6 separate regions of the Homo sapiens genome follow, and all the other regions are reported to be linked to region 1. The links are microRNA targets in miRTarBase. Many come from high-throughput screens and were not tested one by one. Region 1 holds a microRNA gene; each other region holds the end of a gene's coding sequence.
What was found. The annotated mature microRNA hsa-miR-1236-3p reads CCUCUUCCCCUUGUCUCUCCAG and lies in region 1 at 2,688-2,709, opposite strand. An mRNA with a match to its seed (bases 2 to 7 or 8) in the 3' UTR can be bound and repressed. Matches are read on the target gene's strand: a 7mer-m8 pairs with bases 2 to 8, a 7mer-A1 pairs with bases 2 to 7 and ends in A, and an 8mer does both.

Region 2: miRTarBase lists SH2B1 as a target of hsa-miR-1236-3p. The part of its 3' UTR that is shown has no 7-base or 8-base seed match.
Region 3: miRTarBase lists PKIA as a target of hsa-miR-1236-3p. The part of its 3' UTR that is shown has no 7-base or 8-base seed match.
Region 4: miRTarBase lists AKIP1 as a target of hsa-miR-1236-3p. The part of its 3' UTR that is shown has no 7-base or 8-base seed match.
Region 5: the mRNA of NSG1 is a reported target of hsa-miR-1236-3p. Seed matches in the 3' UTR shown: 8mer at 1,542-1,549.
Region 6: the mRNA of CELF1 is a reported target of hsa-miR-1236-3p. Seed matches in the 3' UTR shown: 7mer-m8 at 782-788.

Annotation. Positions count from the first base shown.
Region 1 is chr6:31,954,152-31,958,239 of GRCh38, forward strand. MIR1236 (microRNA 1236) reads right to left here and starts at 2,789; the gene lies at 2,688-2,789. It overlaps NELFE (negative elongation factor complex member E), which reads right to left. Exons shown (of 11, transcript NM_002904.6): 3 at 2,790-2,859; 4 at 2,542-2,687; 5 at 1,068-1,142; 6 at 908-945; 7 at 404-741; 8 at 147-291.
Region 2 is chr16:28,873,581-28,877,668 of GRCh38, forward strand. SH2B1 (SH2B adaptor protein 1) reads left to right here. Exons shown (of 8, transcript NM_001387430.1): 8 at 1-625. The coding sequence ends at 240. Among named protein-coding and RNA genes, the nearest start is that of ATP2A1, 2.9 kb to the right of the region's middle. RefSeq lists enhancers at 373-873, 874-1,374, 3,879-3,948, 3,959-4,048.
Region 3 is chr8:78,601,041-78,605,112 of GRCh38, forward strand. It overlaps PKIA (cAMP-dependent protein kinase inhibitor alpha), which reads left to right. Exons shown (of 4, transcript NM_006823.4): 4 at 702-4,072. The coding sequence ends at 781. The region is part of intron 2 of LOC105375911 (a long non-coding RNA gene); the gene reads right to left. Among named protein-coding and RNA genes, the nearest start is that of PKIA-AS1, 45 kb to the left of the region's middle.
Region 4 is chr11:8,918,958-8,923,045 of GRCh38, forward strand. It overlaps AKIP1 (A-kinase interacting protein 1), which reads left to right. Exons shown (of 6, transcript NM_020642.4): 6 at 380-1,122. The coding sequence ends at 523. C11orf16 (chromosome 11 open reading frame 16) reads right to left here. Exons shown (of 7, transcript NM_020643.3): 6 at 2,337-2,558; 7 at 1,119-1,493. The coding sequence ends at 2,359. Among named protein-coding and RNA genes, the nearest start is that of AKIP1, 9.8 kb to the left of the region's middle.
Region 5 is chr4:4,416,618-4,420,691 of GRCh38, forward strand. It overlaps NSG1 (neuronal vesicle trafficking associated 1), which reads left to right. Exons shown (of 5, transcript NM_014392.5): 5 at 618-2,441. The coding sequence ends at 818. It overlaps STX18 (syntaxin 18), which reads right to left. Exons shown (of 11, transcript NM_016930.4): 11 at 2,351-3,512. The coding sequence ends at 3,417. Among named protein-coding and RNA genes, the nearest start is that of NSG1, 32 kb to the left of the region's middle.
Region 6 is chr11:47,468,407-47,472,494 of GRCh38, reverse strand. CELF1 (CUGBP Elav-like family member 1) reads left to right here. Exons shown (of 15, transcript NM_001376376.1): 15 at 138-4,088. The coding sequence ends at 265. Among named protein-coding and RNA genes, the nearest start is that of RAPSN, 21 kb to the right of the region's middle.

The DNA of each region.
Region 1 (4,088 bases):
ACGGTCAGTGGAGAGCCAAGGGGCTCTTCTGGACCCAACCAAACCCAGTGATAATAGGCGGCTGCAGGGAGGGCAGCTTCTTCCCTCAGGTCTCACACCCCAGGATTCTCCCAGGACTTCTCATCATGCCCTGTTGTCATCCTTACTTTCTGGGTGGGTCCATGGAGAGGTCAATGATGTTTCCAAAAGGAGAGAAGGCCCCACGGAGAAGGGTGGGTGTCATGTCTTCTCCATATACATAGAGAGTATTCCCTTTCCTAGGGGCTCGCCGTTCAGGGAATGAATCCGACCCTTTGGGAGCACAAATCATAGTCACAAGACATAGACCATGCCACATTTCACTTAGTAGGACCCACATAAACCTCAGTTAAGGTCACCTTGACCTCCAGCCAAAATCACTCACTGCGGAAAGGACCCTCTCGGTCTCGGTCTCGATCCCGCTCCCGATCCCTGTCCCGTTCCCGGTCTCGATCTCGATCCCGATCCCGATCCCTGTCCCGCTCTCTGTCTCTGTCTCGATCCCGGTCTCGATCCCGCTCCCGATCTCGGTCTCTGTCCCGGTTCCTCTCATGGCTGCGGTCCCGGCTGCGGCTTCGGGGAGGGGAGGCTGAGGAGTGGGCACCACTGCGTTCTTCATAGCCCCAGTCAAAGCTTCGAGGGGGACCATCACCAGCCCCTGGGCCCTCTGCCTCTTCTCCATCTGGTCCTAGTTCTCGAAGTCGATCACTAGAAGACACAAAGCTGGGGAGATGCAGACTGAAGATCAAAGGGGGGTTTTACCTTCTCCCCTCAGACCCTGTGGAGACTCAATATTCCCTCTATAGCCCAGCTCCTACAGCCCAAACCTCCCAAGGACTCAGGCAATCAACTCCACCAAATGGGCCCAGCCTTATCTCTACTCTCTAACCTCTCATACAGAGATTTCCTCTGGGGACGTCTGGATGACTGTAAAAGAGACCAAGAACAGTTAAGATGATTTCCAGTTGCTGACATGTGGTCCAAAATATATTTGTCTCTCATATTCCTCCATCCCCAACCCCTCAGGGACAGAAATTAGGAGCCTTTACCTCTTGCAGGTCATCATCAGCAGATATGCTCCTCTGGAACGGCTGGAAAGTGGGGACTGGTCCCTTCTCGGGGTCCTGGAGTGGTGAGAGACCTACCTCAGTGTGGAGCAGGAGGTTGCCCAACCATGGACCAGAGGTGTTCCTCTTCCCTCACCCTCTTCTAGGTTTCCTCTGATCTTTTCTTCCCTTTTAATTCTACATACATTTCTTATTTGACGTGGTTTTACTTATTTTTTTTTTTTTTTTTTGAGACACGGTCCTGCTCTGTTGTCCAGGCTGGAGTGCAATAGAGCAATCGTAGCTTGCTGCAGCCTTGACCTCCCATGCTCAAGCAATCCTCCTACCTCAGCCTCCCTAGTAGCTGGGACTAGAGATGTGCTCTACCATGCTTGGCTAATTTCTGTATTTTTTTTTTTTTTTGTAGAGATAGGGTTTCACTATGTTGCCAGGGCTGGTCTCAAACTCCTGGGCTCAAGCAATCCTCCTACCTCGGCCTCCTAAAGTGCTGAAATTAACCAGGAATGAGCCATTGCCGCACCTGCCATTGTGGCTTGTTTTGTTTTGTTTTTGAGACAGAATCTTGCTCTGTCGTCCAGGCTGGAGTGCAGTGGTGTGATCTCCACTCACTGCAACCTCTGCCTCCTGGGTTCAAGTGATTCTCTGGCCTCAGCCTCCTCAGTAACTGGGACTATAAGTGTGCACCACCACATTCTGCTAATTTTTTTTTTTTTTGAGACGGAGTCTCGCTGTCACCCAGGCTGGAGTGCAGTGGCACAATCTCGACTCACTGCAAGCTCCGCCTCCTGGGTTCAAGCAATTCTCCTGCCTCAGCCTCCCAAGTAGCTGGGACTACAGGCGCCCGCCACCACGCCCGGCTAATTTTTGTATTTTTAGTAGAGATGGGGTTTCACCTTGTTAGCCAGGATGGTCTCGATCTCCTGACCTCGTGATCCGCCTGCCTCGGCCTCCCAAAGTGCTGGGATTACAGGTGTGAGCCACCGCGCCCGGCCTCACACCCTGCTGATTTTTGTATTTTTAGTAGAGACGGGGTTTTACCATGTTGGCCAGGTTGGTCTTAAACTCCTAATCTCAAGTGATCTGCCCACCTCAGCCTCCCAAAGTGCTGGGATTACAGGCATGAGCCACCACGCCCAGCTGGTATTTTTTATAAGTGACTCGATATATTATGTATTCAGTTTATTTGAACCTCTCTTGAACCTGATAACATTTTCAGCCCTTTCCATCCCTTAGGGCAACATATTCCAAGAGCTCCAATCCAAGGTGGATTAGAACCACAGAATTTGTAAAATGGAGAATTCAGGAGTCGTCTAGTTTTTTCATTTTATACATGAGAGGTGAAACTCAGAATGGTACAGCAATTTGCCAGTGCTTGAGTATGCATATTTTTCCCCAAACCCATCTACATTCCAACTTGGAGGGATGCCCTTTAAACAATCTTTCTGCTTGTGCTCACCTTTAACTTCCCCTCAAGGGTTCGAGAACGCTTGAAGCCTGAGTTCTTGGTCTCAGCCTTGATGGCACTGATGGCTCCTGACTTCACCAGCTGCTTTGCCTGCTCTGTTGCTGTGGCTGTGTCCATGACAGGCTGCTCTGATAGTGCTGGAGAGACAAGGGGAAGAGGCATTATGTTGGCCAAGCCATGATGAAGGTCAGCTCCATGCTGCCCACTTCCAGTCCATCCCCATTTCCCCTGTCACTCACAGCGTTTGACACCACCTTGGCTGGTTGTGCTGCTGCTACTTTGCTTCTTCAGAGCCAGCAATGCCTTTTTCTGGGAACAAGGGTGAGAAGAGAGAGGTAAGTGAGGGCCAGCCCCTAGCCGGTTCCTCTCCTAAGGCCCCTGGGCACATCACTCCAGGGACCGTCTTTCTTGATGCCCTCAGAGTGGTACACTGATGTGCTCTGCCTCTTGCCTCTGGTCCCCTAGATCATGTATGATGCTGGAAATTCCTAATCTAACCAAACCACGGAACCCAGAGGTTTTCCAGAGTGTTACATTTTTGAAGTTGAAGACAAATAACTCAATCATGGACTAGAATCCTAGGATATAAGCTGCAAGTAAGTATAAGTTTATGTGCCTTTCCTGGAAGCTTCATCCATCTATTTCCTGCATATTGAATGAGGCCCAGCCATGACTTCGTAACAGGGATATCCAGGAGGCTAATGCATTGTTCCTACCCTCAAGAAGCTTACAGTCTGAGAAATAAAATACATTGAGTTAGCAATACAATTATAAGAGGTGCAGATTATTCATAGCTGAAAGCTAGTAAGATTTTCTGATGTTTAATGGCTATTAAACTAGGCCCTCTCCCGTATCTCTGCACAACACAGAGAGGAGAAGGGTATTTTAGAAAAAGAAAACAGGGTGGCAAAGATGCAGAGATAAGAAGGCTTTGGGAATGCATCTTTTGGAAGTAGTGAATAGTTCTACTTTACTAGACAAGGCTGCCAAACTAAGGTTTTGAGGCTTTTTTATAGACAATGTGAAGCCATTTATGGTTTTTGAGAAACAGAGGGAGCAGAATTTTGTGTTTTCAATGGATCATTTGAACAGGAGTGAAGAAGTCTGTTCAAAAAAAAAGACTGAGAAATTTGTTGAGAGACCATTACAATGGCCCACATGAATGTCAATAAAGCCCTGCTCGGGGGAATGCACAGTGAAGAATAAACAGGAAAAATTACTTCAAAAGAAGAAACAATAAGACTTGGCAAAGGTTTGACTATGCAAATAGTGGGGAAGTCAGAGTTTTGAGTCCAAACATGTGGCAGAATTGGTGTAGTCAATCTTATTTGGAAGATCAAGAATAGAAAGATGATAGCTTCAACACTGAGTATCTGAAGTTTTTCAGTATAACACTGGATAGAACTGGAAAAAACAAACTTGGGGATCATCAGCTCTTAAGCGGTACTAAAAGCCATGGGAAAGGAAGACAATCCATGGCAAATTGCATAGAAAAGACAGAAGGTCCACACCAAGGCTTGGGAAAGCCCACCTCTCGA
Region 2 (4,088 bases), not on the chromosome of region 1:
CAAGAGAAAGAGAAAGCGGGCGGTGGAGGGGTCCCGGAAGAGCTGGTCCCCGTGGTTGAGCTGGTCCCCGTGGTTGAATTGGAAGAGGCCATAGCCCCAGGCTCAGAGGCCCAGGGCGCTGGGTCTGGTGGGGACGCGGGGGTGCCCCCAATGGTGCAGCTGCAGCAGTCACCACTAGGGGGTGATGGAGAGGAAGGGGGCCACCCCAGGGCCATTAACAACCAGTACTCCTTCGTGTGAGCCAACCCCACCCGCTCCACCCTTTTTAAACCCCCCAGCCCTGCTCGTGAGATTGGGCTGGGTAGGGACAGAGGAGGCCGAAATCCCTCCCCCATGCTTCCTGACCCTTGTTGGCCAAGGGCATCTTTGATGGTACAAGCAGAGGCTCGGGAGAGGCTCCCGTCACACACTACAGGTCCCCTCCCCAGGGCAGGGGATTTGGGCTCCATGAGCTCCTTGAGGGGCTCTTCTGGTCAGCCCCACCCTGGGGGCCATTTCCCCATTAACTACCCCCAGCCCGAGGCAGGGTGAGGGGGAAGGGCTGTCAGTTACATTAAGGTGGTTGTTGTTGTTGTTTTAAACAAAATGGAGAAGCATAAATAAATAAAAAGGTTTATCTCGGTTCTATCGTGATGGCTATGGCCATTGTTTGCTGTGGGGACTGGGGACAGTTGGGTTGGGAAGGCAGCCCACTCAGTGCCCACAGGCCAGAGGGCTGGCCCAGGCCAGTCCCCATCATTCTGCAGTGCTGTGCTTTCGGAGCCATCCCTGTGTCTGACAGCCTTGTTCGTGGAGCACTAAATGATGCTCTTGGGGTCTCCTGCGAGTTTTTGTCATGGGACAGTGCTGTGAATGGCAGGCATGGTGATCTCCAGCGGCCCTTCCTGAGTTATGGCTTTGTACCCTAGAGAGAGCTGGCAGTGAGAGATGGGAGGCACGGTGGCTGTGCTGGAAGAGATTGAACGTGGCAGTCACAGGGTAGCCGCAGAGGGGCCCAATGGCCCCCTTCTCAAAGCCAGGCTGGAGGGATGGCAGAGGGCACTAGCTTCTGTCCTGGCCTTGCCACTCACTGGCCTGGGCAAGGTGTAGCCACGCCGGGCCTGAGCATCCTCATCTGTGACATGTGAAGTTTCATCTTGAGTCAGAGCTGCTGACATGGTTTGCTTGGCCTGGACATGGTGTCCATTTGAGTTTCACATTAAAAATTCAGATCACAGGCCAGGTGTGGTGGCTCACGCCTGTAATCCCAGCACTTTGGGAGGCCGACGTGGGTGGATCACCTGAGGTCAGGAGTTTGAGACCAGGCTGACCAATGTGGAGAAACCCCGTCTCTACTAAAAATACAAAAAATTAGCCGGGTGTGGTGGTGCGCGCCTGTAATACCAGCTACTCAGGAGGCTAAGGTAGGAGAATTGCTTGAGCCCAGGAGGTGGAGGTTGCTGTGAGCCAAGATCGCACCATTGCACTCCAACCTGGGCAACAGAGCGAGACTCTGTCTAAAAAAAAAAAAAAAAAAAAAAAAATCACTGGCTTCTCTTAAAAATCAGAAGATCCAGTGATGTGGGTCCACTTCCACATCTGCCCCATCCCCACCAGCTCACTTTGCTCCCTGGGAGGGCCTGGCCCTGTGGGCATTTGAGTTTATAACACCACCCCCATTGTGGCACACCCCTCCACCCCGTAAAACACAGGCTCTGCTCTTGGAATCAGTCTTCCTGATCTGTGGCTGTGCCCTCCAACAGAGGGCACCCCTGGGCTTCCCAGCTCTGGGGGTAGTGGGTGCCAACAAGGAGGGGCCTGGGGCTGAAGAATCCCACCCGCTGAGCTCGGCCTTCTCCCTTCCCCACTGTCCAGCTCCGCCTTTCAGCATCCTGCCTCACTCCCCGCCCAGGCAGCAAGGAGCCCACACCCTCATGCCCCTCAGCTTCAGCCCCCACCTCCAGGAGGCCCTACCCACGCTCATGACCTTGCTATTCTGGGCCTTGTGTCCTGTAGGGAGATGGACAGGAGACAGCTGGGCTTCCAGGCCACCCAGGCGGGGGGCTAGCCGAGGGAAGCCTGCTGGCTCTCCTGCTTGCTCTAATTTCTGGGGCTCCCCAAACCTTGGCCTCAGGAGACTGGGGATAGGACCGGCCTTGAAAGTGGGGGAAGCTTTGGAGAGCCGGGTGCTGGGTTCTTAGTGAGATGGCCAGTGAAGGCTGTGGTGCCCCGAGGTAAGCAGGGCCTGATCCCCTCCTAATCTTCCAGCAGCAACTGGTGCTCTGAGGCTCCCCCTCCCCCAGCCCTGCCAGCCTTCAGGGACCTGCCTTCCAAAGATGGGCAGGGGAGGGGGACGAGGACACCCACCCACTCCTCAGACCAGCATGTCTTGGCTGTTGGGGCCTGAGAGACTTTCCCTCTAAGCCTTTCTTTACAGATGGTTAAACCGAAGTTCTGCACTCATCAGGGACTGGCCAGGGTGTCTCTGTGTCCCATGCTTTTAGCTCCAGCCCTCAGGTGTGACAGGAGGATCACTTTCCATCCCTGGGCGTGGAGACCCCTGTGGGAAGGGATCCCCGAGGGCGCCTCTGGCTCAGCCTCCCTCCATGGCAGTTCACACCCACAGCCTTCCCTAGAGCAGCCCTTCTGCAGCTCCTGGCGGGTGGCTTTCCCTCCCTGGCTTGTTTCCCCCTCTGGGAAGCCGGGGGAGGTAGAAATGAATAACCTTAAAGGCCTGTTGGCAGGAATGTGCTGCCAAGCCTGCCCCCTGCCCTCTGTCTCAGGCTCTCGACTCCCTCGAAGCTGCCCATCTCTCCGTCTGCCCCTCTCCATGTTTGGGCATTCCCACTGCTGTAAGACAGTAGCCCCTGTCACTCCTCCAGGTGCCGGTGGGGAGACGCCGGCCAGCGCCAAAAGCCTTGGCGGGTGTGAGCCTGAGTCCAGCGGAGACGGTGGGTGCTGGGCCGGGTGGAGGTGCCGGGGGCTGTGTCTCTTGGAAGAGAGGCTGCTAATGCTCTCCTGCACCCCCAATTCAGCCCACTGTCCCCCACTCCCCTCAGGTCACAGCAGGATTCTGCTTCAGGGGAGGGGTTTGTTGGAACTGTGAAAAGGAGGCAGGAAGGAGCACCTTGTCCTCAACTCACCCAGGAGGCCGCGCCTCACCCAAGTCCAGGCAGAAGGGATGCATCTGGGAGGCTGAACCCTCAAGTTCCATCCACCCCTGCTGCCATCCCCCTCCCCAAAAGTGGGGGCCTCCCTTTTCTTTGCTCTGCTGTCTCCTATTCTGTCCTCTGCTTCGGAGTTTGAGCCCCAGAATGGAAAGCAGCCTTAAGAAGCCACACTTAGGAAGTCCACATGCCTCTGCTCATTTCAGGAAACAGGCCTAGACAGAGGACGGACTTGAGCCCAGGGCACCAGGCCCCTTCCCCTCACTGACCTTTCACCCTGACTCTCATCCAGCCTTTCTGCCTGCCTGTCCTCCCCTTCCTGCACCCCTGGTACCCTCCCTCGGCTCCTCCAGCAGCTGCCCTGGTGGTAACCAAGAGACGCCCCCATCCTGGAGCAGGGGTGGGGAGGGGCAGCTCAGAGCAGCTGCTTCTCTGAGGAAGCTGACACCAAGGCCAGCATTCAGCAACAACTTGTGGCTTTGCACCCAGCGCCGGGGTCCCCGCCCACCTGGCTCCCTGCTGTCCCTCTTCCCCACTGCTGCTCGGACTTCCCTCTGACCCTGGTGGCTCTGTGTCTCTGCTCCCTTTCCCCCTAGGTCTAGACATCTGTCCTTATTTCCCCCAGACCTGTCCCCAGAAGTCCACCCTTCCCCATTCCTTTGGTCTGGAGCCCCTGCTTGGTCCAGCTTCCCCAGGCCCCGACACCTTTCTGTGGGGTCTGCCTAGCTCCTGCACGCACACAGCATGGGCCTGATCCTGTTCCCCTCGTGGACAGATGCAGCAGGGCAGAGTGCAGCGCAGACCACAGGCCTCTGGGGCTGGCCACAGAAACCCCGTTGGTTAGAGCACAGTGTGGGATGAGGTGACCCTCAGTGCACGACTTGGGGTGACCCCTGCCCCCATCCTGAGACAGTTACCCCTCCCCCTCTGCCATCAGCACAT
Region 3 (4,072 bases), not on the chromosome of region 1:
ATATAAAGTGACCTAATATGGAGTGAAAGCATTGAAATGTTTGCCATACCACTGGCTAAGATTGCTACTGAGGGTGCAGTTATGAGGGTGGTTTTATTGGAATTGTGCACATGTTCTCTAAGGGCAGACCAGAGGCCATTGTAACTATTTGACAAGGGACTGGCCAGCTGACATAGTGTCCTTTCATTTTCAACTATTGCTTTTACTTTGAACTAATAGAACCTCTGAGAAATTAGCTGGGTTATCATCAAGTGCTATAAAAAGGAGAAAATGCAGTTTTAAAATATTTCTTCAAATAAGACAATCAGGCATAAAAAGGTAAACATGCTCCCACTTCTGATTTCTACTTAAAGACATTTCTGATTTCTGCAACCTGTGAAACTATACCTAAGTGACATGACCTGGCCTTGAGATTTCTGAGCTATTTATCCAAAGCTTGGCTGATCACTAACTACTCTGAAAATTTGAATATTATTTTGTTTTTGAGCCGTGCTGTCCCAAGTTCACAGAATTAATCAGTCCTTGAAAACTTAAGCTGTTTTCTTAGTGGTGAACTGACTACCAAGAAAATATACTTGTTCCTTCAAGGTTTCAGGCCTATTTAGTATTTCTGAAGTTACCAATATGACATATTGACAGTTGGTAAATAAAAGCAATCATTTTTATTTTGCCTTTATTCTGTTTTCGTTTTTCTTTTGCAGAAGGTGAAGAAGATGCACAACGAAGTTCTACAGAACAAAGTGGGGAAGCCCAGGGAGAAGCAGCAAAATCTGAAAGCTAACACCCCACTTTGACCCTCGACCACACCTGAAAATGTCTCAAATCTCCAGGAGTATCTGGAATGCATTTGTTTCCATGAGTGAAAAGAGGAAAAAGAAAATGGCTGTGCTGCATTGCAGGAACCTGCTCATTATCATGTTAAAAATGAGGGCAGAGGCTGTGGCTGCAGGCAGACTTTTCCCTACCTCTGTCATTAGCAATGGTTGAAATCATGTGGCTTGTGTTTGGGCGTCATTTTTGTATGGATCCTTTCACTTGATCATATGACGAAATGCTTATAGAGAGTAGCTCCGACCTAGATGATGATTCTTCCTGTAGCATCTGGCCCCTCACAATGTCAGAGGATTTAATTGTGTCTAATTGCGAAGGGTTGATTGAACCCCAGAGTTTAAATATCTCTGGCTCAAGTGTTCACCCAGTAAAAGAAAGATCCAGAAAGCACTGTTTTTAGCATTACGTATCTGTGTGTTACTGCTGTGTTATTTACACTGTTTTGTATTGTACAATATATATGCTCAGCACTGCCCCCTTCTCTGATTGCTTATGAAAAACAAAATGATGTACATTACTGTGAATTTTTATACCACTCATTTTTAAAAGGGCTGTCTTTTCATTTTAGTTTTCCATACTGTGGTGGTGTACACAGGATAGAACACCCTTTTTTAAAACACAGTCTTTCCCCTTGCTCATTGTATGTTGATGAGTTGATTAAGTCTAACAGATTCATCAAGACTCCATTGCTTTATTATAGAGACATTTGAAAATATCCATTAATGTGAATATCACCTGAATTCAGTCTGTTTGGTGTCTGCACAGACTGGAATTCAATCTGTCAAATTTGTTTTATTCTCAAGTGGAGAACTTCTCCCACATAATATATATATATATATATATTTTAATTTATGAGAATTTTGGACAATTGGAAAGGTAGAAAAGAAAAGCCAAGATCATACTAAGGACTGGAAATATTTTGTTCTATGGAATCAAATTTCTCACAATGCTGTATGATACTATTTAAATTTGGAGGACAACTTATCTTCACTAAGCTGAATCAGGTGGAGAAAGTAATCTCCTTGCAATCATGTGGACACCAATCACAAAAGTAAAGCCCTGGTGTTGTGTTTTCATGTCTTTTTTCAGCCCTCTCAGATCCAAATGTTATTATGCACTTTTTAATGTTTGTAAACTTTTACTAATAATTAGTGTGAATTGCATTCTGATACAATAATGATTATCATTAGAAGCTAACAAAATTCTCATTAATACTGTGTTTGATGGCCTCTGCTGTGTTTTAACATCGTGCTTCTTATATGGAAAGTTTTTGTGAGCTGTGTAATCCCTCTGGTCAGTATTATGAAATCATTTGTCAGTGGTAATAAATAAGGAACCAGTAATATGCCAATGGTTCATGAATTACTGGACAAATAGCAGACAATGGGAGTCCCTTTACAATAACGAGCCCACTTAGCTGTCCTTGAGGGCTTAGATACCTTGCCACGTGAAGTAGGTAGAGCAGCATTTCAATAGGTAATTTGTGTGGTTGTGCCAGAAACTCAGCCCTTCTATGTAATTACATACAGGATAAAAGGTAAGTCTGCTCACTTCTCCTTCTACAGGGCATTTCAACTGACTGGAATAAGGGCATGGTTGCATTTAGTACTCAATCAGATATTACTAGAAAAAAAATTAATAATGTGAGCCTTTCCGAGAGCAGAACGAGGAAAGATTAAATTTTAGAATGCTTCCTTCTGTCTAATCCATCAGGGGCCAAAATGCCCAGTAAAATTCAAACACATCACCTATTAATAGACTTACAAGTGAGAAAAGAGGTTCCTAGGGTTATTTTAGGCAATCCCTGGTAAACTGTTTAAACCATCAAACCCCTACAGTCAGTTTTCAGTATCCTCATTTAATATTTTAATAGGTTTCTTGTGAATTTAAACTTCTCTTCTTTCTTAAGGTTGTGAAATTCCAAACTGATTTTATGTGATTTTGAAAAGTTTAGAACCAGTGCTGAGTCTATGTGGAGGGTTTATATTCCTATGTGATATACTGTTATTAATGCATGTGGTGCCATGCTTGTCTTTAAATATATAAATAGTGCTAAATTGCAAAGTCATATGGAGCTTTGGATTTAGTTTGACTTCTTACTACTGCTTTGTCTGCTATATTCAAACCCAAAGGCATTCCCAAGCTAGGGAGATAAAAATTAATTTTCTAAAATGTCCACATCCTATACATTTTGCTTATTCATGGCATCTTTCAAATTTTATTTTAGTTTCCTTTATTTGCCAAGAATACATATGGATTTGAATTTTTAAGGAGAGAAGGAAAGGGTAGGAAACCAGGGCCTTGGGTTTAGTAACAGGCATTGGATGTCTATTAACCAACTATTCTTACGCTAATGGCTTTGCAGCTCCTATTCTCCCATTTGATCCTCAAACAATTCTATTAGAGTGGTATTTTTATCCAATTTCACAGATTAAAATATAAGCACTCAATAAAATATAACCTTTAGAAGCTTAAAAAGCTAGTAAGTGATGAACTGAGGATTTGAACCCATGTTTGTCACCAAGGAGCTTTCCAGGGCACATGTCATAAAATTAGAGCCAACTGCAGAGCTGTAAGGGAACTTTTAGAGATGAACTTCTTCAGCCTCCATATTTTACAGAAGGAAACTGAATCCCAGAAGGAGAAATTGCCGTTCTCAAGGCTCCCTGGATGGGTAATAACACAGATATGAGTAGGTCACATAAAGTATATCTTTTTTAAAAAAAAGAAATTCAATTATGTCTTATTTGGGGGGTATATTTCCCAGAAGATATTTTTCTGGCATGTGGTCTGTAAACACAGCATGATTCATATTTTTTATGTTTCATGCTACTCATTTTGTTTAATTACCAACAAACATGGGGACTTTGGCTTTTTGACTTATTTGCAACAAGCATGAAATTGTTAAATTTACCTTTTATCAATTGTAATCATCCTATGCCAACATATTATCATAAATTCATAGAAATATTTTTAAAAATAAATAACAGACATTGAAATCCAATTCTTAGATAATACTCCCAGAACAGCCAATGGTAAATGCCCTATACTTGAGTCTTACTTAGATGCTGTGGTAATGCACCATTTTAGAAGATGAATGATACTGCTATTTCTCTTCAGGGAAACAATAATGGATAAAGAAATGTAACTGCCGGGCAGCAAAGCTTCTAAGTGAAACCTGTAGTAGCAGTAGTAGTAGGGAGAAAATGTGTAGTCATCAAGTGAAAATAGGAAAGGATCT
Region 4 (4,088 bases), not on the chromosome of region 1:
TACTGCTCATCTGTGCTAAGTGCCACTGTCTACTTCTGATCCCCAAAACAGTGGCCTCTAGCCTTTCCTTCTGCCTAACTCCAAGTAGAGTGTTCTTTTTATAATCCTTCATGTTCATATAACACTTTAGCATTTACAGAGTGTTTTCACATGCTTATTTGTGAGGTATTATCACAGTGCTAGAAATAAGGAAAGGCTGAGACCTACCAAAATGACAGTGTTGTACGTGAGCAGGCTGAGCCTTGAAAGCAGGACCTCTGTCTCCCACATTAGCGCTTCATTCCATCACACCTCTGCAAGGACAGGTAGCCTGCTGGGGGGCCATGGTGGCACTGGGGTATAAAATCTCTAAACTGCTAATATCCTCTTTTCCTTCTAGGCTGAGAACATCTCTAAGGACCTCTACATAGAAGTATATCCAGGGACCTATTCTGTCACTGTGGGCTCAAATGACTTAACCAAGAAGACTCATGTGGTAGCAGTTGATTCTGGACAAAGCGTGGACCTGGTCTTCCCTGTGTGATGTTGACCATCACTGCCATCACATCACCTTTTTTTAAGTAGTAAGAATAAAGCCACTGTATGATTCTCTTAATAGCTATACATTAATCCTGTTTTTAGTGCTGACTGGGTCAGCCTTCCGGGAACTGGAGTCTGTCTCTTTCAGTGCTTTTTTGTTTGTTTGGTTGGTTTTTTTTTGAGACAGTCTCACTCTGTTGCCCAGGCTGGAGTGCAGTGGCGTGATCTCGGCTCACTGCAAGTTCCGCCTCCCGGGTTCACACCATTCTCCTGCCTCAGCCTCCCGAGTAGCTGGCACTACAGGCACCCGCCACCATGCCCGGCTATTTTTTTTGTATTTTTAGTAGAGACGGGGTTTCACCATGTTGGCCAGGATGGTCTCGATCTCTTGACCTCGTGATCCACCCACCTTGGCCTCCCAAAGTGTTGGGATTACAGGCGTGAGCCACCGCGCCCGGCCTCAGTGCCTTTTTTAACTTGAGGGTGTAGAGGTCCTCCACGCTTGTTTGCCTGAAAGTAATATAATGATGCTGTCTGAACAGGTTTTACTGCTTGCTTTCCAAGTAAAGGTTAATTATGATAATAAAGAGATTTGGAAATGAAGAGAATTCATTTTTATTAAGAGGTGAAACAAAATGTCACTCATGTACAACTAGGCTTTATGGGAAGGTGGCAGAGTGGCTGTGGACACATTTGCCCAAAGCAGGCTGACCCCCTCTTCCACGGAAGAGGCATCTTAAAGCAGTTTCACCAGGGCCCTGGCAGGGAGCCCCAGGGCAGGATCCCACATTCCTATAGCCCTCACAACAGGTGCCTTCCTGCTGCTTATCTGCAGGGAGGTCTTCGTGGGGTGGAGATACTGGTGGTTATTTGACTGTTACCTGTGGCCTGTCCTCTGCCTCCTTCCGTTGAAGAAGGCCTTGTCAGCCACTCTGTATAACTCTCCTCGAATATTTACCATGTTTATTCTTTACCTATAAAAGGGGGAAAAATTCCATACATTGTTATGCTGACTGCAATTTTAAGAATCAAAAGTCACTGATTTTAAAAAGTCATTGATTGTGGCCGAGTGCGGTGGCTCATACCTGTAATCCCAACATTTTGGGAAACCAAGGCAGGAAGATCACTTGAGCCTAGTAATCAAGACCAGCCTGGTCAACACAGTGAGACCCTATCTCTACAAAAAGTAAAAAATTTAGTCAGGTGTGGTGGCATGTGCCTAGCTACTCAGGTCCTAGCTACTCAGGAGGCTCAGGTGGGCGGCTCACTTGAGCCCAGGAGTTCAAGGCTGTAGTGAGCCATGATTATGCCACTGCATTCCAGCCTGAGTGACAGAGTGAGATCCTGTCTCAGAAAAAAAAGTCATTGCTGTGTCCCAAATGTCTTGAAGCTGCCACAGCAGAACTGTGACATCTCCCAGTTTCGTTGCCTGGTGATTCTCTCATTTTGAACACAAACCTTTCCTTGGGAAAGGTGCCAGTATTTTATATAATGGAAATAAAGTTTAAGTAGGGCTATATTATCATTCTTAGTGAGGAATAGACTCCATATTCAGAGGGCCTAATAAAGCAGACCCCTACCCAATACCATAGAACAGAGGGTCATTTAAACGGGGATCCTTGCACCCCCAAGAAGCCTGTGATTAAATTCATGGGTTCCATAAGCCTTCTGAAATTACATGCAAAATTGAGGGTATGTGCATTTTTCTAGGACAAGGGGTCATAGGTTTTACTGTTCTCAAAGGGGATGTGACCCAAAAGGTCTAAGACCCATGTGAGGAGTCCTTAGGAAGCCCCTTTCCAGCCATTCTGCTTTACCTAGATCCTCAGGGCTCTTAGTCTAACGGGAATTCTTGTTCCACTGACATATTGCAAGGCTCTGACTCCGCTTTCTGTGTTCAGCTTCCCCTGGCGGGGTCCGCGGTGGCTTCATGTGGGTTGCTTTCGAGACCAGCTCCTTGGTAGTCCCCACTACTGCAGTTTGTGCTCTCTGCTGTTTGTGATCCTTTTCTTCTTTGCAGATGTTGGAATATCTTGTTCCTAAACCCAAAAGTCAATTACTTAGGTTGAATATGCCACCATTTTGATGGCATAAGTAGAACTAAAACAAGGATCACTGAAGTATCTGTAAGCTCAAGCATTGTTTTCTTTTCATTTATTATGTATTTGAGACAGGGTCTTGCTATTATCACCCAGGCTGGAATGCAGTGGCATGATCATAGCTCACTGCAGCCTCAGCCACCCGGGCTCAAGTCATCCTCCCACCTGCCACCCGCTCTTCACTACAGCCCCCAGTAGCTGGGACCACAGGCGCACACCACCATGCTCAGCTAATTGTTTAGTTTTTTGTAGAAACGGTCTCACTATGTTGCCCAGGCTGGTCTTGAACTCCTGGGCTCAAGAGATCCTCCAGCCTCAGCCTCCCAAAGTGTTGCAGTTACAGGTATAAGCCACTACACCTGGCCTGTTTTCTTTTGCCATCATGCAATGTGTCCATGTAATGTTTTCTATTTTTAGAGAAAAAAATTGTTATCATTTCTGGACCTTATGCTTTTGGGAAACATTACCTGATACCCAAGATTTGGAGTTGTGAAGAAGTTATTGGATGTGTCTTCTAAACTGCCAGTAGGGCAAGCAAAGGTAACTGACTGCCACCAGTTAAAGGAGCTTCGACACCTTCACTGATCACTGATAACACAGACCACAAAGAAGAGATTACAAGCTGATAGAAAACAAATATTAAGAAATTGAACTGGGTGCATTGGTGCACACCTGTAGTCCCGACTATTTGGGAGGCTGAGGTGGGAGGATTGCTTGAGCCCAGGAGTTTGAGGCTGCAGTGAGCTATGATCGTGCCACTGCCCACCAGCCTGGGTGACATAGTGAGACCCTGTCTCTAAAAATAAAAAAAAAATTGGGGCAAAACAAAAATAATGGGAGATGTGACTTCCTGAGGAATAGACCAATCTAAAAGGGAAGGAATGCTTTTTACGTTTCTTTTAAAACTACAGATTGAATCCTGTTTCAGTCAAAGGAGGCAGAAAGTACCTCCCTGCCAGCAGCTCACAATCTGGCCTCCCTAGGACTATTAGGATCTAATTGGAACCTCTCACTGCCTGTAACTGAAAGTAAGGGAAAGTGTGGAGGACAGAGAAACCTATGCAAGAGCTTTTGTGAGAGGCAAAGCTCAAAATTGAGTGTCAAGCATCAGCACTCGACAGAACGGATATCAAGTCCTGATAGCAAGAACTGATTAAACATCAAGCATGTTTAGGAGAAGCAAAACAGCACATTTCCTTTAAAAGATACAAAACCTGGAGGGGAGAAAAGCAAAGCTCTGGTGTTTGCCTTGTTTCAGCCCTGACCCTGGTTTTCTGTGCTTCTCTTCACTAGTGAGCAGGTAGTCCCACACATGTGGTGAGGGCGGGGGATGGCCATGTCTCCACACCCCCTCTCGGGCATGCTCTCCATATATTTGGGAACATACTGATGATGCTCATGGGTCAGCCCCAGGAACTTTCCCTAGAGCATAACACAAGATCCAGTATTTAACAGGAAAGCCCGGCCAAG
Region 5 (4,074 bases), not on the chromosome of region 1:
TTCCTGATAAACCTCTGTAAGACCCAAGTGCTGTCTCGCACTCCCCCAACCCACGGCCCCTCCCTACCCCCTCGCCATCTTCCCAGCCCCTAGTCATGACCACCTAGTGGCTCTGTGTGCCTCTTCTGACTCCCGCCCCAAGGCCCCTCTCTGCTCTGGTTTCCTTTGCCTTGAGTGCTGCCCCTCCCTCATCTCACCTAGCTAAGGTCTGCTGAGAACCTAGCTCAAGGGAAGCTCTTCTCACTTCCCTTCCGTCCTCATTTGAATTGGTTGTTTTGGGATATTTCATAAGTTGTTGTTTTCCAATTGATTAAAAATGACAACTAGTGCAAGATCTTCAGTGAAGTAAGGCCTGCTGTCCCATTACACTGGCACCCTTGGAGCCCAAGTGCCCATCTGCCATGGCACTCACCAGCCAGTCTATTAAGAATAATCAAGGCCAGGCTTCCCCTGTGCTGTGCTCTCTCAGGGCAAGATCCATGCCCGTTTTTGCTCATCACTGTATCTATTCCTCCAAGCTCAGGGAAGGTGCTCAGTAACTGTTGGCTGCCAACTGGAGACACACTGGCACCCCCTCTTGCACCGACGCGTGCTCTCAGTGGCCTCTTGTCTTTCAGAACACCCAGTGCATCCCAGAAGGCTTGGAGAGCTACTACGCGGAGCAAGACTCCAGTGCCCGGGAGAAATTTTACACAGTCATAAACCACTACAACCTGGCCAAGCAGAGCATCACGCGCTCCGTATCGCCCTGGATGTCAGTTCTGTCAGAAGAGAAGCTGTCCGAGCAGGAGACTGAAGCGGCTGAGAAGTCAGCTTAGCGGGATGGGCAAGTTCCTTACAATGTGTCACTTGCAAATAACAAAGGGACTTTGAGGGACATTTCATTAAATATAATTACTGATACTTTAGAGGTTACTCATTTACGGTGCAATTGCTTCTGTTTGCTAATGCTGCTTTGCAAATAAAACTTGCTGCCGACCACCCACGGGCATAAAATCAAGTGCATTTCAGCATTGCCTAAAGAGCTCTGACACCACTTTTCATGTTAAGATCTTCATTTAGCTCCTTTACTGGGATTTATTGGATGCTGTAAAAAAATAAATTTACACTGGATATGCGAAGGGTTTGGATCTCAGATAAATGCATTTTGTGGAATTGATTTTCTGAACCGACCCTGCTGTCTGCAAACCTTCCTCCATAGCCATATCTAGAGTGATCTCTCGCTGTGCTAAGAGCAAGCCTACTTCGCATTTCTTCCTCGGCCATCAGCGGGTAACAGTGCTGACTGCTGCCAAGGTGCACTGTAGTAAGTAAGTGGCATAGAGAACGAGGAAAAAGACCCCCCCACCCCTCCCTGTGCTGACTCCTGAGTCGGGGTGGGACGGCCCTGCAATGTGGCAGGCTCGGTGTGGATTGACTACTCCCTCCCCTCTGACTCTGGCATCTTGGTAAGGAGGGAGGGGCACCACCCATCTGGGTGGAGACAGCTGGGGTTTGCTCCAGTGTGTGTAGACTGGCAGAGCATGTGAGGGAGAGGGCTGGGAAGAGACGGCCCTGGGCCCGTGAGGTGCAGAACTCTCCCTGCAGGTAGTCTGTCTGCTCTGTGATGTGCTGATAGGAAAGAGCCCCCACTGGCCCTCTGGTTCACTTCTATTATGAATAAATTTGCACCAATAGCCCCATTAGTTTTTAAAGAAATGAGCTGGGTGGGAAAAGTGGAAATGTAATTTCTGGTAAGCTTGAGCTACTTTAATTTTTATTCTATGAAACTGATATCCCTTGATGTGGGAAACAGGCAGGAAAGGCTGTGGGGTGGGGGTGGGGGACTGGTGTGGCACCGTGCAAACAAAATGACAAATTTCAACTCACAATCTTTGTAAGAAAATTGTTCCAGTTTGAATCTTGATATTAAAGTTTATGTTTACAAAACTGCCAGTTAGATGAACTAAGTGTGTAAAACAAATAGAAAAGACATTCGCAGACATTTCTTCTATGTTATTGAATGTGTTGTTTCTGGTGTACGTGTCAAAAGTTTCAGTTTTTTAGATCAGAAATAAACGACAAATAGTGTGAGATGTGTTGTGAACAGGCATGGTGACCGTGGTCAGCGCCACTCTTGTTTCCTGAAATGTGCTTCTAAGACAGAAAATGTATTTTCTCATCAAGGGTGTCTGGAGACACAGACCGTGACCTTGGCGCAGCGGTGTGCATCAGAGGCGTGTGCTGAGAAGGGTGGTGTTAAGCTGTGGAAAATGACTCAAGAGCAATAAATCAGTGCCAAAGCTTCCCTGCGCATCTGAATAGACACAAGTGAAGCCCGTGTGCGCACAGTGCAGAGGCCGAGCCTGTATTTCCAGGTAGACGTGGACTTTATTGACTGTGAATTCATTTACATGTAACTTCTGACATTTCACTCTGTGCAAATAAAGAACATGAGGATACCTGTGCTGCCCAGTGGACTGTCTGTACACACACGCATTTCACCAGGCGCAGTGCAGACTGTCTCATGCCCATGTGGGCGCTGGGATGCTTCCTGTACAGATGTCTCATGCCTTCAGTTACACATAGGTGTTCCTGTTTACAGTTCCTGGAGGTCAGAAGCACAGGCACGAGAGAAGCAGGCCCGTTCTTCCGTGGCCCACTTCTTCCTTTGAACAAAGGCTCCTTGGACCCAGTGGCGGGAAACTGGCCCTCCCACACCCCCTGCCTGTTCTGGGGGCAGCAGTCTTTGGAGGAGTAATGCCAGGCAGCCCCTCACTGAGGGCCCCAGTCTCCCCTGCATTTCTTCCCTGATTGATTGATAGGAGGTGGCTGGGCTGCCACTGAATTTGTCAACTTAGACTCATTGACAACACATTAAGGGGCTGTAATTATATTTATTAGATTAACAAGGCAGATGTGAATTTTCTCTTCTATAATCCAGTAAGTCTGTGTATTCGTTGACTCAGACAGACAAGAAGCCACAAGGAAACAAAGAAGTAATCATTTGTTGAGAGACGTTATTAACTATGATCTTCCCTGAAGCTACCGGGATGGGAAAGGTCAGTGTCTTCCTTTGAACCCTGAGACAATTAGGGGCTCTTGAGGCCTGCTGTGCCCCTGCTGCCAAGGCAGCCTCAAGTTCAAGGAGCAGCTAATCACCCACTCCTGCATTCAGTCTGTCTTGCCTGATGAGGGCTACGCAGGCTGCCTCCCATTGGTGTGCACTGTTTCCTTTTTCAGCTGCTAAATGGCTGAACACCATCGGCCTGGGGTATCCCTTTTTGGGGAATACGTCTGTCTGTCTGAACTCCTTTCCCTTCAAATGGCACTGTGATAAAATCTGGTCATACCATGCTCCAGCACTGGAAGTACATGAAAGCACGCAGTCTGTGAGTGCCCATGAGGACTCTCGTGCTGGGCCCCCGTGGCCCTGGCTAGCTGTCGTACCAGTCGAGGAAGAGCAAGGAGAAGGAGCACATCACGAGGAAGAAGAGGATCCACACGCGGAAGCCAGCGTTGTTTTTAATGGCCTGGGCAGGGACGGGAGCACAGGTGTTTTTATCACACAGGATTTTGGTTTGAGCAGCCCTGAAATGCCCCCCTCTTCCCACGTGCTCTCCTGATCCTGGCTGTAACTATGGGTGTCGTTCCATCTGTGCTTACCTTGAATAGATGGCTTTTGAGATCCACCAGAAGACAAATGGGTTATATTTCCCTCTGTTTGGCCATCATTTGGGTCCTGCACAATTCTCCCTCAACACAACTCTCGGAATCACTCCCTTCTGTCCCAGGGTTAAGGGCCCCGAGCAGAGTGTGACCGCAAGCTTTGTGTTTCCCAGTAACATGATGTCCGTGGTGACCCAACCCTGAGGACTGAGCTTGGGAAACAGTCCCCTCAACAGGATGGCTGTAGTGTCCTCTGTAAGCAGGGGCCAGGCTCTGACCCCTCGGTGGGGGCCAACGAGCTACCCATGTACATCCCTGGACATGAAGAGCTGGCCTGACCCTGCCAGGAGTACCCCCACCCACCCTGGATTGCTCCTTTGGAGGCTGGTGAGCCACTGCCTCTCGAAAGCAGCTGGAGGTGGGCGA
Region 6 (4,088 bases), not on the chromosome of region 1:
ATAATGTCCAGATTTCTTGTCCCTGCTGAATAAAATTGGGATTTGAGATGAAGCACATAAGGTATCTTGCATAAGGAGGACTGAGAATCTCCTTGCCTCATTATGTCCCTCACCTAGGTTTCTGCTTGGACACACAGGTTTTGTAAGTTACGACAATCCTGTTTCGGCCCAAGCTGCCATCCAGTCCATGAACGGCTTTCAGATTGGCATGAAGCGGCTTAAAGTGCAGCTCAAACGTTCGAAGAATGACAGCAAGCCCTACTGAGCGTGCTCCCCTCTGAGACTGGAGTGAGAGGGTCTTCTGGTAAGTGGGGGAGGAGCACCCTTAATGATTCGAAGCCCTGAGGCTGTGTGTTGACAGCCCTGGACCCTGATCCCTGCCACTCTCGCAGGCACAGCTTGCCCTGAAGACTCGGCTACTGCCTTCTGTGGGAGTTTCGCTTCGTACAGAGGACAAGTTTGTGCTTTGGTTTCCAGTGTTTTACTTTGGAGTTTAGGTGCCATATCCTGAGGTTTTTTTTGTTTTTGTTTTTGTTTCTCCTTTATTTAAAGTTTGCTGTGTTTGTAACCAGTGTGTGTTGAGAAGGACCAACACCAAACCACCCTGGGGAAGGGGGACAGGGAAACATTTAACACAGACGATGATCAGGATTTGCCCCAAACCACCCCAAGAGAGAGGACTGAGTGGAACAAAAAAGTGACCCCCAGAACCTCTCTTAGTGTGAGGGTGGGTAGAATGAGAACTGACACCTGGGAGCTGTGGGGAGCAGAGCGGCTTTGGGGAAGAGTGGAGTGACTAGACACCTAATGCCCTGGCAGCTGGAGACTCAAACTCCTGTACAGCTACCTTCTGGGAAATAGTTTTTGACACCTATTTTTCAGATTCTTGTCCGGAATTTCTGCTGCTCTTTTCAAAAAAGGGCATTAACAATTCTCTGGAAATAAAGCACCTGTTAGCCTGACATATGCAAAAAGCAGGGCGGCATCACCCATTACGAGCTCCCCCAGCCAGCAGTCAGTATTGGATTGGCCTTGCCTGGCTGGTGGCAGTTTGGGAGAAACAGCCAAAGAGGTTAGTTTATTTCAACACCAAATTAGACCATGGCCCATTTCCAACGGGTCTCTTTAAAGGCCTCTATGGAATACATTGCCTGGTTTCCTTCTTTGCAGTTCACCACAGCAAGGAATGTCACCTCCATCCCAAGCCACCATTTTCTCATGAAGGCAAATCCAAGAAGGGCTTGCAGTTCTTGCTGAAGGGGGTACCATTTGTGGGCAGAGTGATCAATACCATCTAGTTGGGGGAGGAGGAGCTTATTTCTTGGTGTACTTGAATCAGAAGGTCCCTGCAAGCCAGTATGCTTCATTTGCCAGTGGCCAGAAATTCTCCCTTGCCTCCTTGATTGAGGTGTCCCAGATGTAGTATTCCCACAGGGGTCTGGCAGGCCCCTCCTGTAACCACTCCAGTCACATTTTCTGCTCTTGAGGCAGAGGTGACATCAGGACGTTTACAGCCTCCACATGAATTGAGTGTTCATTTACCTCAGTATTACCGTGTTCATTTTTGTCCTCGTGCTACAGTTAGCTCCCTGCCGCCTCTTGCAGGTCTTACTTCAGCTCTTGCCTGTGACCCACACAGCTTCTGGGCTCTGCCTCTGCTCTAAGAAGTGCTGTGGGGGTAGAGAACCAGGAAGGACATGCTGTTGGGAATGTACACCTGGGCAGAGGTGGCCCTGTTAAGATGTGACTGTAGCCACAGCCAGGGATGGGATCCCTGGGTCTCTGGAATCTGAAACCTCAACAAATACCAGTCTTGACCCCTAGCAGCAGAGATAAGAATAAAGGGGTTGGTTTGCTATTAAGTCAGATGGGGGCTCTCTCCTTGTCATGCTGTCCCTGTGGGTAACAGACAGGGATTGACCATCTTACTGTTGTACAGGTAGCTGGTGGTGTTGGATTATCCCATTGAAGCTGGGACAGCTGTTCCTTTCTCATAGTGATAACTTGGGTCTGTTGTCCTCTAAGGAACGTGAAACATACACTTCTTAAGCTGAACCACGTAAACTTGAAATTCTGCGCACTGGGAGAAATGTGTCCTGTGTTTCAAAGGATAAAACTGTTCTAAAGGCTTCCAGGGTCATGATGGGATTTTTTAAATAAATGCAAAAAATAAAAATAAAAAAGAAAAAAGAAAACAAAAAAAAAAAAGAAAAAAATGCTAGGTTGGGGAGGCGCTGTTCTGAATCCCAACCGGCTGGAACCAAGAATGTCGTTTCTATTTTTATAGAAGTTTTATACAGCTCCGGGGTGGAGAATATTTATTACCTAAATTATATCTCTGGAAAAGGCCAGGATTTTGTAGAATCCAGAATGTGATTGTTATACACACAGGGTGCTGTGTATGATTGAAACTACTGACTTTCTGTGGCCCGTTTGCAGCCCAGCTAACCTGCCCAAGGGGAAGGTGTTAATGCTGTGAATTGGCAGAGGAGAGAGCTGTGCTCCATAGGGTGCTGCCGGTGCTGTGCTCCCTAGCCTTCTGTTCTGTCTTCCTCCTTAGCCAGAACGCCACTCCCTTCCCACATCCCCTTCTTCTCTCCGCCTTCCCCCATCTCACCATTATTTGTCCATGGATTTGTCCTGGGCTCTGGGACCTTATGAAACCCCTTTCCTAATGACATAAGAGGCCAAGGTGCAATCCACCCACCTTTGATACCAGACCCTGAGGGCTTCATACCTGCTGATGGGTTTTCTTTTCTAAAAGGAATGCTCGCCCCAGCAGGGTCCTGGGCTGCTTGAGCAGCCAGCTGGTGAGACCATGCACTTCTCTGTTCTCTCCTCCCCCTGCCCAGTGAGTTAGCACAGCAGTAGCACTGCCCTTGAGCACAGTTCTTTCCCCAGGCCAAAGATGGTTTTGTGAAGAAGCTGCTCCCCTACAAGTCTCACGTGTGAAAGGGCTCAGCTCAGAGTGGAGACTCGCTGTCAAGTCTTAAGCAATCCTTTTCTGTTGTGTGAAGGTTTCACTTACAATGTGTTTTCTGCTGTAGTTTTGTTTCTTACTTGGGTTACATCATGAAATTGATTTGCCTTGAATGCAGCCAGACCACTGTCTCCTGGGTTCCCCTTGAGTGGCCAGGGCCTGGATGGAAGCTAAGAGCTTGGATTTCTGGGAACAAAGGGCCATCCCCATAAGATTGAGCAGAAATTCTGGTCCTCTTCCCTGAAAAATTTTCCCCACCCCAGCCAGCATCTTCTGCTTCCCCTTGGGTTGTGACCAGGGAGTGGGGAGAGAGGCTGAGGCTCTGCTCCCCTGGAGACCTTCTCTTAGGAGTTGGGTGCTTCATGGAAAATCCAAGCCTTAGGTTCCCTTCTGTCTCTGGCAATTAGATGTGTTCTTGGTGTCCTCCATGTCCTTTTTGACTTTTCCCTGTGTCCATTGTTAGCATGTGCAAAAGTTCCCTGTCATTACCCAACCCCTGCCCGCCCACCTCATTTCAGGGCTGTACACACAGTGAGTGTTCCTGTTCTCTCTCTCTTTGTTTGGATGTATTGCTCTGTGTAACTCAGTGGGTCTCCCTCTTTCTGGTTTGTTTTTTTTTCTAGATTCCTGCCGTTTGTTCATCGTTGTGCCTAAAGCATGTCGATGTGGCGTCAAGTACATCGTCCAAATCCCTGTCTCTTCAGCTTCTCTGATGCTTGAACTCTCACCTTTGACCTTGTGTTGACCTTTGATGCTGATGTGTATTTTTATTATGTTTGTTTCTTTCTTCGTTTTTTTTTCTTTTTTTCTTTCCTTTTTTTTTCCTTTTGTGCTGCCAAATTGGTTTTGCTAGAACGACTGCTGAAGGGGAAATATTTAAACTTGCATTTGAATATAAAAAAAATCTATTTTTCTAGAACTTCATAAGATAACCACTTGATTTTGTGATTCCAATTCTTTGTAATTGTCTTCAGAGCAGCCCTACTAGCACATACCGCGTGGTGTTTGTATTTCTGTGAACACACAGCCAGTCCGTTTCTAGGCTTTGTTTCTCTGTGTGCTTAGTTTTAAAGACAACTTTGAAGTAAACAATGAAATAAAAGATGTC